Linked DNA regions of Homo sapiens. The protein of the gene in region 2 interacts with the protein of the main gene of each other region in a biochemical or structural test. Each region holds a gene or a part of one and is shown on either strand. Other genes may lie near its edges.

What was found.
Region 1: the proteins of BOLA1 (region 2) and GLRX5 form a complex in vitro, tested with the Homo sapiens proteins (2 studies listed by BioGRID).

The regions. Positions count from the first base shown.
Region 1 is NC_000014.9:95,530,053-95,538,050, reverse strand, and holds the start of GLRX5 (glutaredoxin-related protein 5, mitochondrial precursor), read right to left. Parts: upstream 3,002-7,998; 5' UTR 2,962-3,001; coding exon 2,667-2,961; intron 1-2,666.
Region 2 is NC_000001.11:149,895,267-149,901,310, reverse strand, and holds BOLA1 (bolA-like protein 1), read right to left. Parts: upstream 1,744-6,044; 5' UTR 1,639-1,743; exon of another isoform or gene 1,581-1,638; intron 1,469-1,580; exon of another isoform or gene 1,302-1,468; 5' UTR 1,252-1,301; coding exon 838-1,251; 3' UTR 516-837; downstream 1-515. UniProt on the Homo sapiens protein: Acts as a mitochondrial iron-sulfur (Fe-S) cluster assembly factor that facilitates (Fe-S) cluster insertion into a subset of mitochondrial proteins. Probably acts together with the monothiol glutaredoxin GLRX5. May protect cells against oxidative stress.

The DNA of each region.
Region 1 (7,998 bases), on a different chromosome or scaffold from region 2:
ACAGGTGATTTTCCTTCTTTAAACTTTTCAGTGTTTTCTACATTGCTTCCATGAGCATAAGTTCCTTTATTAAGACCAGGATTAGGAAATGATGATGTCAGTCTACTGGGACCTGATCCCTTTGTGACTGTCTTCTGTGTGCACTCCAGATAAAAAGAGAAGGACAAGAAGGTCTTGAGAAGGCCAGAACACAATGCTGCCTCATAGTCACCTTTGTTCCTTGGGTCACAGTCTCAAGATGTGTCTGTATCACACTCCTGGGAACCCAGTACTCAAAACTAGGAAAGAATGTTTTCCTCCGGTTTAGGCACTTTGTAAAGTTCAGGTCTCCTTGGCATAAGAACCAACAAAAGGCCAGTTTTGCAAGAGCTCCGTTCCTATTACTAGAAATGACCTTGGATCTGGTGTACAAACATAGTTTCGGCTGGCAAAAGCAAGCATCGGACAGCCCGTTAGTTGCTCTTGGTAAATAAAGCTGTATAGGGAAGAGGGGAAGAGTCTTAATAACCTGGCTGAACTAATCCCCATTTGGGGAACGTGCTTTTACCACCCTGCCCAGTCCAAATGTTAATACTTACTAATCTTTACTTTTCTAATCAATAAAAGAGGTATGTTATATTCAATATATATGCAACGCGTTTATTAACCAAAATAGCAATCTGATGAAACTCAGTGGTCAAGGAATGTAAGGGTTAAATTCCTGTCGCTGCTGTTTGAAAACTTAAGAAAGTAAGCTCAGAAACCAGACACCAGACGTGGATAAAAGACAGAAAAATAAAATGTTATCAGTACATATTCGTATTTTTGCTCCTATTTTCCGTTTACTAGCTATATTCCAGCATATCTCATTTCCAGTTATATTAAACAAGAGAAAATAAATTCACAAACCAAAGACCCTCGAAACATGATACTAAGCGAGATAACAACACCACTTTTTTACTAGTGCCATATTGGCAATTTGCAGGGGACTCCCTGCAAGGTCTCTGTCAAAAGACTGCAAAATAGTTACTCCTCTTTTAAGCAGAGAAGCTGTCTTCGAAGGAAGACTGCAGGTCCCTTGCCTTGCACATGATAAAACTGAGCCCAGTAACTGGTGGCATACTAGTTGACAAGGAAGACAAAAGGGTCATGAGAATAACACATGGTAATATTACATATACGTGGTAATTTGAACCTGCCCTCTCGACTCCTCAACTCAACATGCTTTCTAGGTCCCACCCACCACCACTATCACCTACAGCAAATGGAGGATCAGTTATCCCCAAGAGTCTTTAAGGACTAGATAATCTGGGAAAAAATACATTTGAAAACCATCAAGTGCTAATACGAAGCCAGCTACCATTTACCGGGTGCTTTCTGTGCCAGGTAAAATAATACACACTTTCTATAATTTTTACTTTGGCTTCCTAACACAAACTTTGCCAAATTGTCTCATTATCCTCAAATGCAGGTGAGTGACTTAAGTTTTACACCTGATTAGCCACAGAAGAGGATGTCAACCCAAAGCTTTTCCAAACACCAGCCTGTCTCATCATTGTAAGCAATGACTATGATTAGTAATTTCGAATTTAGAGTAACAGAGAACCTGGCACCTATTTTTAGCACACAACTGGCACCTCTTTTTAGCTAGGGACATGCAGGGACTCAGTCACTGAAAGTCTCTAACTGGGATGCAGGTATCCTAAGTCACTCTCTAGAAGGAAAAGGTACAGCCTTCCCAGTTTTCCACCAACCCTGACCATCCTGGCCAAGGAGCAGGCCCTTGTGCCTGGCCTCTTCCTCCTCCCCTACTCAGATAAGACTGGCGAATGCACGTGGAGTACTTGGAAAAGATGCTTATTAGCTGCAGCCTTCCCTCTCCCGGCCTAATCCATCTGGTCCCTGGTGCCCTGGCCCCCTGGGCTCCAAGGCTGAGCCAGTGAGTTAGCCCAGGGCCCAGGAGCCAGGGCTGCTTCTTTTCCCCACAAACCTCTCCAAGCCCTGGCCCACATAAATTCAGCCCTGTGCTTGAGTATCTAAAGCCAAATGTCATGACTCTTCCCCGACAACATAGATCCCGACTAAGGTCAGCCGACAGCTGTCCCAACCCTTTGCTTGTAGCAACCACAGAGGATGATGCTTGACACCCTGAGCCGTGAGCCAAGCGAGATCAGCCTCCGACCTCACTAGCCTCAAGGGCAACCTCAGCCCTCTCCCCACCATCGACAGCCCTAGACCTTACCCACGAGTAGGCCAATGGCTTCCAACCTCCCCAAAGTGTCCGCGAAAGTACCTATCTCACAGTGGGTCCTTACTATGAGTTTCCTAACCGTGCAGAGCAGTCAGGCAGCGGGCCACCCTCCTCCGAGTCAGTCATTGACAAATCGCCCCGAAACGCCTATATTAGCTCGAAGTGAGGATAAGTGAACCTTTAGGACTTTACCTACTGCTCAAGTTGGCAACAGTACAGAGCCCCAGATCCTCAAGACCCAGTGAAATCAACTACACCCTCAGCCCAGACTCTACTCCAGGGCAGTACTCCTCGCCCTAACCCGGCTCGAACCTTCAGACAGACCCCGGCGGATGGAGCCCCGCTCCCCAGCCCGGCGCGGCGGAACCCCTCGGCCTCGTGCAGCGATGCTCCTGGGCCCGGGGCGGAGGGCGCCTGCCCGGCACACTGGCCTGACCTTGTCGGAGCTCCGGGTCGTCCAGCACGTTGTAGGCCGCGTAATCGCGGACGCCGTGCAGCCGCAGGATCTGCACCACGGCGTTGCTGAAGCCGCACTGGGGCTGCTCCGGCGTCCCCTTGAGGAAGACCACCACCTTGTCCTTCTTCACCAGCGCGTCCAACTGCTCCGCCGAGCCGCCGCCGCCCGCGCCCGAGCCCGCCGCCCGCACGCCCGGACCCCAAAGGCCACCGCCGCCCGCGCCGCGCCCCCAGCGGAGCAGAGCCGCCGCAGCTCGGCCGAGGGACCCGCTCATCTCCGCACGCAAGCCGGAGCCCACGACGGCCCGGGCCCACAGCTGGCCACCCAGAGCGCTCCCCGGCCCGCGGCAGTCCGACCCGCCCCCTGGAGGCCCTCATTGGGCCGGCTCTAAACTGCCCTCCGTGATTGGACAATACTGATCAGTAATTACTCGATTCCACCAATCATGTTGCTCGTCCCGCCCGGCAGGTAGGAGGTGGGCCTTATGCCGGAGCCTCATCCTACTGCCTTACTATTGGTCGTCGGCAACCGCTTTGTTAGTTAATTGGAGAGACTGGATGTCCATCAGGGTCACGCTTGCAGGGCAACGAGAGGCAAAACAAGAGGGAAGACGACTTTCCTCCTGTGAGCCAATGAGGCCAGCTGGACTACGCCGAGACAACTGGGAGAGGCGCGGGACTCGCCCGTTCCGCGGAACGCCGGGAAGGGGTCACCTCCTGATGAAGTTTCCGGTTCCGGTGTCAGCGGCGGTTGAATTGCCATGGCAATGCGGTGGGCGCGCGCTTGTCGTGTTGGTCTCTTGGGAGGTAGCGGGGCTAGGCCGGGCGGGTATCCGCCTCTCCCAGCTTAGGTGAGCGTCCCCGGGCGCCTCCGGAGCGCCGCGGCCGCATGCAGTTCGTCGTGGCGGGGAGCCGGAGCCTGACCGGGGTTCCAGCGCTCGGGCCGTAGCCTTGGCTCCTGGACTTTCCCTGGCTCCGCCGCCACGTGGGAGCTGAGGCTCTGGGGCTTCCGCCTCCGGCGCGCGATTATTTCTCTAGAACAGTTTTCATTTTTAAAATTTGTAAAGCGCTTTTGCCTGTGTGATTTCCTCTGGGTTTTTTTTTTTTTTCTTCCTTTTTGTAGAGACGGAATTGGCGGCGGGGGCGGGGGGTCGATGTCTCACTTTTTTGCCCAGGCTGGTCTCGAACTCCTGGCTTCAAGGGATCCTCCTGCCTCGGCCTCTTAAAGTGCTGGGATTACAGGCGTGAGCCACCGCCCCCGGCCGCCTCTGAGTTTCCAGCCTCGTTGGCCCTCCAGCCTTTTAACCTGTTGGGCCTAGGATCAGGAAAGGTTTGTTGAATGGGGAACTAAGAAGTGAATTCGTTCGTTCGACAAACGTTTCCTGAGCAGCCGCTGGGTGCTAGGCGCAGTGCCAGCGCGGAATGTCCAGGGAGACCTGGTGCCCAAAGCTTGGACCCATCGTGAGAAATGAGAAGCAGATACAAAGCAGTGTGGGAGTGCAGAGGAGACAAAGCAAGCCTCATCAGGCCCATTGCTTGCTCTGCTCTCCCTTGTACTTACCAGTGCTTGACAATATACAGTTATTTACTAGCTTGGTTATTGACTTCCTACCCAGCACTCAGTTTTATTCACTGCTGTATCCTCAGTGCCTAGGACGATGCTTGGAACGTGGTAAGTGCTCCTATTGGCGGGAAGAATAAATCCGGAAGAGCAGGACCAGTGGACTTGCTACATAATCTGTAGTCTTGGAGCCGCACAGGGTTGGTGGTACCCTCGAGCACACCAGACTTGCAGAAAAAGCATACTCCAGAGGAAGCTGAGGCATGCCTGCTCGAGAGCCAGCTGTTCCATGTGCAATTTTCCTCTGATAGTTTCTGGTCACTGTTGCCACGGTGATAATGACTGGGCTATGTCATTATCTATCCGCCAACAGTAAGAGAAGCTTTGCAGTCGAGATATTGTTTAGCAGATGGAGTGTTTTCTGTTGAACACTAAGTACTGCCACAAGTTACTTTTTTTTTTTTAAACTTTGAGTATTTTTTTACAATGTTGCTGGAGGTGATCTGTTTATGCTTTGAGAGTGTTCGAATTTAAAATCAGAAAATCATGTCAGTGAGTGAGTCTTTCAAATAATCCTTCGGCATGAAACCTGAGCCTAGTAAACTATGAAAGTAAACTCGGCACATTACCCGAAAGTCTCAATGTCATATTTTCACCCCCATCAATATTATTGATGATTGCTCATTTTCTAATGTGGGACCTGAAATTTACCAGGTGCTTAAAGAATCTTTTTGTTTTTCAGATTCATTGATTCCAGGTAAATCAGAGGAACAAGCAACATGAACAGAAATATGTAGAAAAAGCTATTATGCAGAAGCATAATTGTTGTTTCAGAAGTCCAGCATCTGGTGCACTTAACAATAGAGAATATATTAAACTCTTTCCAAAATAACCTGTTGTTCCTACCTGTGTTGTAAGTGTTTTGTTTGTTTTTAAGTAAATATTGGTGATTTGTTGCCAAAAACCTAAACTGTTTGTTGCTGTCAACTTAAATAACGAACAGAGAGAGGCTCTCTAAAAGAAAATGGCATTTATTCAGGAATAGAGCACTGCAATGAGAAAATGCATGCGATAGTTAACTGTGTGTATCCTGGGAGATAGAGGAAGACAAAGGTCTTTAAAGGAAAAATGAGGAGGGTTACATAATTGTTTTGAGATAATTATTTTTGACTACAAGGATCAGTAACAAAGGTGACACCAGTCCCAGGTTGGACAGGCAGGTGCTCGGCAGGCATTGCAGAAGTATTTTTTGTGTAAGATTGAGATGGCCTTTGTGCAGGATTGTGGTTTTGGAATCTTCTGTGATCGTTTTTGCTATCAGGCATTTATGCTTGCGAACTCTTTATGGCCTTCCCTGTGTCTATTTTGATTCCACCTTTCTCATTGCCCACTCTAAACTGTAATTCTGCTTTTATGTTGACTGAGATCAGGAGAAGAATTTGCAAACTTATATCCTGAGACAGAACAGTAATGAGGAGTATCGTGTTCCTTACCTAATGTATAATATTGGGCTCAGAAGCAGTTGTCTTTTTTATTTGTTGAACGTTGTATTAAGTTGAGAATGCAGCTGCCATTAAAGATTAAGAGTAATCCTTGAGAAGGAAGAGTACAAAGCCTGTGTTTTGCTAAATCATAGTGAAGTTGCCGTGTTTTTGTAGAATATGATAAGAACATACAGTGTGTGAAATGCTAAGGATATGGAAAAGCATGTTGGTGCTCTTTCAAGGAGCTATTTTGATAGCATGAGCAAGGGCAGGAAACAGATCATGTATCTGAACCAAAGAAATTGAAACAATACATCTAAATTTAAATTTTTAATAAAACAACCCAAAATATAGTGAAATACTTAGCACCAAACATCAGTGATCTTAAGAAGCAAAGAAAACAGTATTCAAAATACTTCGTCCAAAGTATCAGACTTTTGCATAAAGTTTGGCATTTTGGTTTTGAGATTCCTCTTTAGTCCTATGATGAAAACATGACAAAATATACATCTTAAATAAACAGTTGTCATCAGTCTGCATCTATGACCAGATGTTTTGGGTGTTTTGAGTAAATGGCCTGTCTTAGCATGTGATGGCTTCCTGCCTCGTGAACATTAGTGAAGAGGTGAGGGTGGGAAGTACTCAGGAACTTCTGAGAATCCTGGGATTTGAGTCACAGGATTGGTTAAACCCCAAACTAAATAATCATGCCGTGTAAACATGCTGACTCAGGCATCCTAAAAATGTTTTTCTTCCTTGTGTTTATTTATAGATAAGGCTTTACTATATTTGGTAGAACTCCTGTTTTCTATCCACTTCTCCAAAAACAAATTCGCCATTGAATTCATCGTGTAAACCTCCACATATCTGAGATAGCTTCTTCCGTTTATCAGCCCCAAATGAAGAACTAGAGTTCAGATTATTGAACTGAAGGTGATGCTTTATCTGAGCACTCCACATGTCAGTGTTTCTGTACCTTTACTTTTTTAAAAAATTATTTTTTAAAAAGATGAGGTCTCAGTAGGTTGCCCAGACTGGTCTCCAACACCTGGTCTCGAATACTCCTCCCGCCTTGCCCTCCCAAAGTGCTAGGGTTACAGGTGTGAGCCGCCGCACTGGCCCTGTTCATTTTATGCTCAGTGCTGCATTCTTGTTTGTTCTTAGAAAATGAGAGGGTGTGTTTGCATGAGAACGTGTGGTACAGAAGTGTCTATCTGAGCTGGCCAGAACATTCTGCAAATGTCATATTAAGGGCAAAATGGCTGCTTGGATTGTACAAGGGGCCGAACCACCACGCATTCCTAAGCTAAAATAGCAGATTCTATTGACCTGAGCTGGAACCTGAAAGCTTCCTCTGTGATGCACTGAGCTATCATCTAGTAGTTTTAGAGCATCACTGCAACCCTGGAACTACCTGGATTCCCTGATAACACCAAAAATAATGTAATGTATAAGAAACTGAAGCAAAATGCAGCCCTCAGAATTTTTCTAGTCCCTATTGTGGAGATAGAAATGCTTGTTGGATTTCGACTACCTCTATCTGACAAGGCAGCTGGTTTATTAATACTTCTTTGGCCGAGGCTTTGCTCATCCCTGCCGCCCACATCTTGGAGACAGGAAGGCAGGCCAGCCTCCACTGTGTCACACAAGTCCTGCTCCCTTCACCTGCCCTGAGTCACTGGGTCACTGAAGAGAAAGGGCATGCTGTAGATCTGGTTAGTTCAGTCTAGAATAGACCGTGGGAGATAGGTGAGCATTTATGAAAAGCCCAGATGCCATGACAACCCAGTTTTGTCCTGGAATTTGGGTGGAGGTGTAGTCCTGGGTTCTGGTCTTAAACGTCGCTGAGTACTTGAGTTCTTTTTGATTTTCCTCAGATTTTTCCACATCTATTTTCCCCTTTCTGGATTTTGGAAAAATCCAAATTGATGTCTGCCGAAGTTTGTATATAATTGAAGAATTTCTTCATATAAAGGCTGCAGCGTTGTAAGAAATCTGTGTGTACTTTCTCTGCTCATAAATATTTACCCCCAAATGTTATCATCTTGCATAGATTGTACTTTTTTGTTAAATTTTTGTGTGTATACATGAATTCATTCGAAGCATACATTAACCCTAGGATAACAGTTCTCAGACATTTTGGTCTCCAAATTATGTTTTTTTCTAATATAATATGTTGATAGACATTAGCACTTGTGTCTCTAAGTTTTGTTGCCTTCACATGCAATTTCTGTTTTCCTGCTGATTCATAGCATCACCAACAAGTC
Region 2 (6,044 bases):
AGCCGAGATCGTGCCATTGCACTGCAGCCTGGGCAACAAGAGCGAAACTCCATCTCAAAAAAAAAAAAGAAAAGAAAAGAAAAGAAAAAAAAGGCTATATAAAGGTTTCTTCATCATCTGTAATCATTTTCTTAGTTCTTATCCTCTTTTCACTGCTTTAGTGGTTTTTAAAAACATTTTTCTTTTAAACAAATACAAATACTACTTTTTGGAAATGAACAGGCTGTAAAAAAGCCAAACATTCCCCCCCTCAAGATGAAATTCAAATGTGTCCCTGCCTATATCCCCTGTCTTGTCCATTAACTCACTTCTCAGTCCAGCGTCTATGTCTTTGCTCAGGTTCTTCTCCCTGCCTGCAGCACCTATCCTCTCCTTTCTGGTTAATTTTGTGCTTTCCTTTAAAGATCCAACTAGATCACTTCCCTCATAAAGCCCTTCCCGACTAGTCTACAAGTATCTTTCTTCTCCCAAGAACACCTGTGGCACTGATTCAGCAGTCCATTAAGAACACAGCCTCATAGTGTAATTTCTTTTAATGTATAGGATTGTTTCCAACTCATCAGGTCTGGTGCAATTCTGTCACGATTTAACATGGAACATCCGGGCTGCCCTTCCTGAATAGTCCAGGGCAAGAGCAGTAGTGAGTGATTCTTCTCTTTTCTCGGGTTCACTTTGACCTGAAGCAAGTTGCTATCTTCGGAGAGTATGTATGGACCCCAACAGAATGGGGCCCAGGGGTCTTCATCCCTTACAAATCCTGGACTGTATCAAAGGGAAGGCCTCGGTAATTCGTGCTCACCCAGCCCATTCGGATCCTGGTCCTCCCTCTCTTGGGGTTCAGGGGGTTCCTAGAGTTTTCTTGTTCCCACCCAGGCATGGGGGGCTAGTGTCCAGCTGAGAGTTCTCTCTCCACTGGGCGGGGGTCCGTGCCTGGATGGCCAGCGCATGGACCGGACCTCCCAGCTCCTCGGCCAGCGCTGCGTGGACCAGCCGGTGTCGTTGTAGGGGGCTCAGTCCCTCGAAACGAGAGCTCACCACAGCCACGCGGAAGTGAGTCTCACTGCCAGGCGGGACCGCGTGGCCACCGCTCTCGTTGCGAAGCTCTAGCACCTCGGGGCTCAGGGCCTCCTCCAACTTCGTGCGAATGGCGGCCTCCACCGGACCGATGGCCCCGGATCCCGCGCTGCCCTGGCACAAACAAACGCGGCCAGCCATGGAGACCAGACCCAGGACCAGCCGCCCACTCAGCATGGGCTACGCCAGAGACTCAGACGCCAGGAGTGAGGGTCGGGGCGATCCGCCTGGTGAGAGCACAATGTCAACACCCGCCCCGCGATCCCCGCATCCGCCCTAACCCCACGCCCGGACGTCCACACCAGCTCCTATAGGGAGCCCGCCTTGATGCCACACGGGGAGACCCGAGACACCGCCCCTTTTCTCTACGTGACGTGGTGAATTCGACCTCCAGCTGTGGAAGTGAAGGGACAAGCGAAGATTAGAAAGGCCCGCACGCGAGGCGCGTTCGTTCCTTAGGGGATTTGCAAAGAATGGGCAAAAGTAGGGCATGTGCAACTGCGTACTTGTGGTTGGGCCGAAGCCCCTGTGTTCCCTGTGAAGCCCCGGAGACGCCCCTTCTACCTGCCGCTCAGCCTCGGCCACTGCGATTCCCGCTCAGGGCCAGGACTCTGGACGCTCCGGAGCAAAATGCAGTCCTGGCGCCCTTCCTGAGGCACGCTGGGAAATGGAGTCCTCGCTGCGCGTTGGTAGCACGGGCAGGCACCACGTGGTGCCCTGAGGGCTCATGGGAACTGTAGTCTCGGATTCTCCCCACTGGTAAGGTGGTCAGAAAGTCTGAACCCAGCAATGCAAAGAAAAAGGGAATTCACGCGCAGTTGGGATTGGGATTATTAGATCTATTTTACTGCCAATAGATCTTGTAGATCATCCAGCCCAACTCCTTTATTTTATATGCAAGAAAATGGAAGTCTGATTGAATACATAATTACTGTGCCCCAGACTAGTGCTGGGGACTGGGGAGTCAAGTCAGGCCCTGTTTTCAAGGAGACAACAGAGCACTGAAGACTAACAAGTGAGCGGACAATTGCAATACTGGGTACTAGGTGCTACGATGAGATAAACACAGGATGCTAAGGAGGCAAGTTACCCAGACTTGGCCGGGGTTGGAGAGGTGGAATGGGAGGCGGGCAGAGAATATTTCCGAGATTTAGGGAAACAGTTCAGCAGAAACAACATGAGAATCCATTTCTCAGTCCCTCATAGTGAGGTTTTGGCTTTGGTAGCTGCATGTGTAAAGGACAGGAGGAGAGAGAATTTTGAGGGAGTCTTTCCTTCTGGTGTAGTTAGGGTGTGGTTATGTGTGGTTGGAGCCTAGGGGGCAGCTGATGGTGATGAGTAGGGTACCAGGAGGAGAGGAACGGGCCAGACCACCCCAGGCCTTGTAGCCCTTGTTAGGCAATTTTGTCTTTATCCTAGAAGTAGTGGGAAGCTACTGAGGTTTTAAGCAGGGATGTAACAGGATGTAATTTTTCCAGGATGATTCTTAACTTGTAAAATTATTTAAATTTTATTTTGTATCCTTAATATATTTACATATTTCTAAATGTTTTTCCCCAACTTCTCATTTTGAAAAATGTCAAAGCCACAGAAAAGTTGAATAGTTCAAAGCAACACCCTCTACCTTTCACTTGACCCACCATTTTTTGCATTTATATTTATTTTATACTTGTACATATATACTCATATATTTAAGTACTTTACATATACTTTAAAATATATTTATATGCTTTTTTGGATGAACCATTTGAAAGTAAGTTGCAGATAGCATGACATTTCACCCCTAACTACTCCAATATGTATCTCCTAAGAACAAAGATATTCTCATACATAACCACAATAACCTTATCACACTCAAGAAATTTAAACTATGACATACACTGTTTTCCCTAGCCTTTAAAAAAAATTAAAACTTCCAGAAAATTTGCAAGATTAATACAATGAGCAACCCATTTATCCACTCTTCACCTAGGTTCACTGATAAGATTTTGCCAGACTTGGCTTTGTATCTCTTTTAATGTATGTGTGTATAATAATAATGAAATAATAATAATTATTTCTGCTGAATCACTTGAGTTAGGTGCAGAAATCTTATTTATTTATTTTTTTTTGAGATGGAGTTTTGCTCTTCTTGCCCAGGCTGGAGTGCAATGGCGTGATCTTGGCTCACTGCAACCTCTGCCTCCTGGGTTCAAGCAAGTCTCCTGCCTCAGCCTCCTGATTAGCTGGGATTACAGGCATGTGCCAACATGCCCGGCTAATTTTGTATTTTTAGTAGAGACGGGGTTTCTCCATGTTGATCAGGCTGGTCTGGAACTCCCAACCTCAGGTGATCCACCCTCCTCGGCCACCCAGGATTACAGGGATTACAGGCGTGAGCCACTGCGCCTGGCCCAAAATTCTTTTTTTTTTTTTTTTTAAACAGAGTCTCACTCTGTTGCCCAGACTGGAGTGCAGTGGCGCCATCTTGGCCCACTGCAACCTCCACCTTCTGGGTTCAAGTGATTCTCCTGCCTCAGCCTCCTGAGTAGCTGGGACTACAGGCTGGTGCCACCATACCTGGCTAAATTTTTTTGCATTTCTAGTAGAGATGGGGTTTCACCATGTTGGCCAGGCTGGTCTGGAACTCCTGACCTCAAGTGATCCTCCTGCTCTGGAACTCCTGACCTCAAGTGATCTGCCTGCCTCAGCCTCCCAAAGTGATGGGATTACAGGCGTGAGCCACTGCACCCAGCCACAAAATTCTTTTTTTTTTTTTTGAGATGGAGTTTCGCTCTTGTTGCCTAGGCTGGAGTGCAATGGTGCGATCTTGGCTCACAGCAACCTCCGCCTCCTGGGTTCAAGCGATTTGCTTGCCTCAGCCTCCCATGTAGCTGGGATTACAGGCGTGCGCCACCACTCTGGCTAATTTTGTGTTTTTAGTGGAGACGGGGTTTCTCCATGTTGGTCAGGCTGGTCTTGACTCAGGTCATCAGTCCGCCTCGGCCTCCCAAAATGCTGGGATTATAGGCGTGAGCCACTGCGCCTGGCCCCACAAAATTCTTTACACTTAATTGCTATGTACTTTCAATGTGTATCTCCTAAGAACAAGGACATTTTCATACATATCCACAATACCATTACCACATCCAAGACATTTAACATTCATACAATACTATAATCACATACAGTTGATATTCAGATTTCCCCAACTGTCTCATTGGTGTCTACTATAGTTTGAATATGTCTCCTCCAGAATTCATGTTGAAAATTAATCCATGGTGTTGGTATTAAGTGGTGGGGCCTTTAGGAGGTAATAAGGCTATGAGGGCTCCACCCTCAAGAATGGACTAACGCCTTTTGAAAGAGCTTGAGGGGGTAAGTTGGCCCCTTCTGTCCCTTCTGCCATGTAAGGTCACCTCGATGGCGTATCTATGAGGAACTGGCCTTCACTAGATACCAAACCTGCCAGTGCCGTAATCTTGGACTTCCCAGCCTCCAGAACTGTGAGAAAATACATTTCTGTTTATAAATTACCCAGTCAGTGGTATTTTGTAATAGCAGCACAGTCTAAGTAAACATTATAAATGTTTAATTTTCAGAAACCAATCAAGGATCATGCATTGCATTTAGCTGACTTTAAGTTTGTATTCTGCAAAGATCACTGGCTTCAGGGTGGAGAATGGATTGTAGAGGAGGCAAGAGTGGAAACAGGGAGACAAGTTGGGAGGTTACTGTAGCAGTCTAGGTGAGAGATGATGATGATTTGGACCAAGGTGGTGGTGGTGGTGGTGGAAATGGAGAGAAATTGTGGCTACAGGATGTATATTAGGAAAGTAAAACCTACAGGGTGTGGTAATGGCTTGGTTGTGGGAGGGAAAGTGTCAAGGATAATTACAAGGTTTGTGCATCTAAAGTTAAAAAAAACAGTTCAAATAATTCCTGTATATCCTTTATCCTGATACCTAGATTACCCAAATATTAACAATTCACTGTTTGTTTTATTTGTATGTACCTATCTACAAATATATAATTATTTTCTGGACTGTTTGAGACTAAGTTTCAGAGATAAAGCCTATTAAACTCTACCTGTGATGGTTAACTTTTTTTTTTTTTTTGAGATGGAGTCTCACTCTGTCGCCCAGGCTGGAGTGCAGTGATGCAATCTTGGCTTACTGCAACCTCTGTCTCCTGGGTTCAAGTGATTCTTGTGCCTCCGCCTCCTGAGTAGCTGGGATTACAGGCGTGGACAATGGCGCCTGGCTAATTTTTGTATTTTTAGTGGAGAGGGGGGTTTCACCATGTTGGCCAGGCTGGTCTCAAACTCCTGACCTCAGGTGATCCACCCACCTCAGCCTCCCAAAGTGCTGGGATTAGAGGCGTGAGCCACCACGCACGGCCTGTGATGGTTAATGTCCCAACTTCTAGAGGATTGGTGCTCAGATATTTGGCCAAATATGGGTGCTTCTGTGAGAGTATTTTGAATGAGATTAACATTTGAATTGGAGACTGAGTAAATTGCCCTCCCTAATATAGGTGGGTCCCATCCAACCAGTTGAAAGCTTGACTAGAACAAAAGACTGACCCACTCCGGAGTAAGAGAGACTTCCTTCTGCCTGACTGCTTTGAGACCCGGACATTGGCTTTTCTCAGCCTTCAGACTCAGAAGTAAACACTGGCTCCATCTGGGTCTTAGACTCGGCCTTTGGACTGGAACTACACCATTGGTTCTCAGGCCTTTGAACTTGGACTGGAACTATATCATCAGTTCTCCTGGGTCTCCAGCTTGCCAACTTACCCTGAAGATCTTGGGGATCTTGGGATTTATTAGCTTCCATAATCAAAAAGCCAATTTTTTATAATAAAACTATCTATCAAAATATCTACCATTCGTTCTGTTTCCCTGGAGAATCCTGACTGATGTATATTTACTTAAAAAAAAAAATTTTCTCACATAGCCGGAATATAACTGTCAGACTCTAGAAATGAAC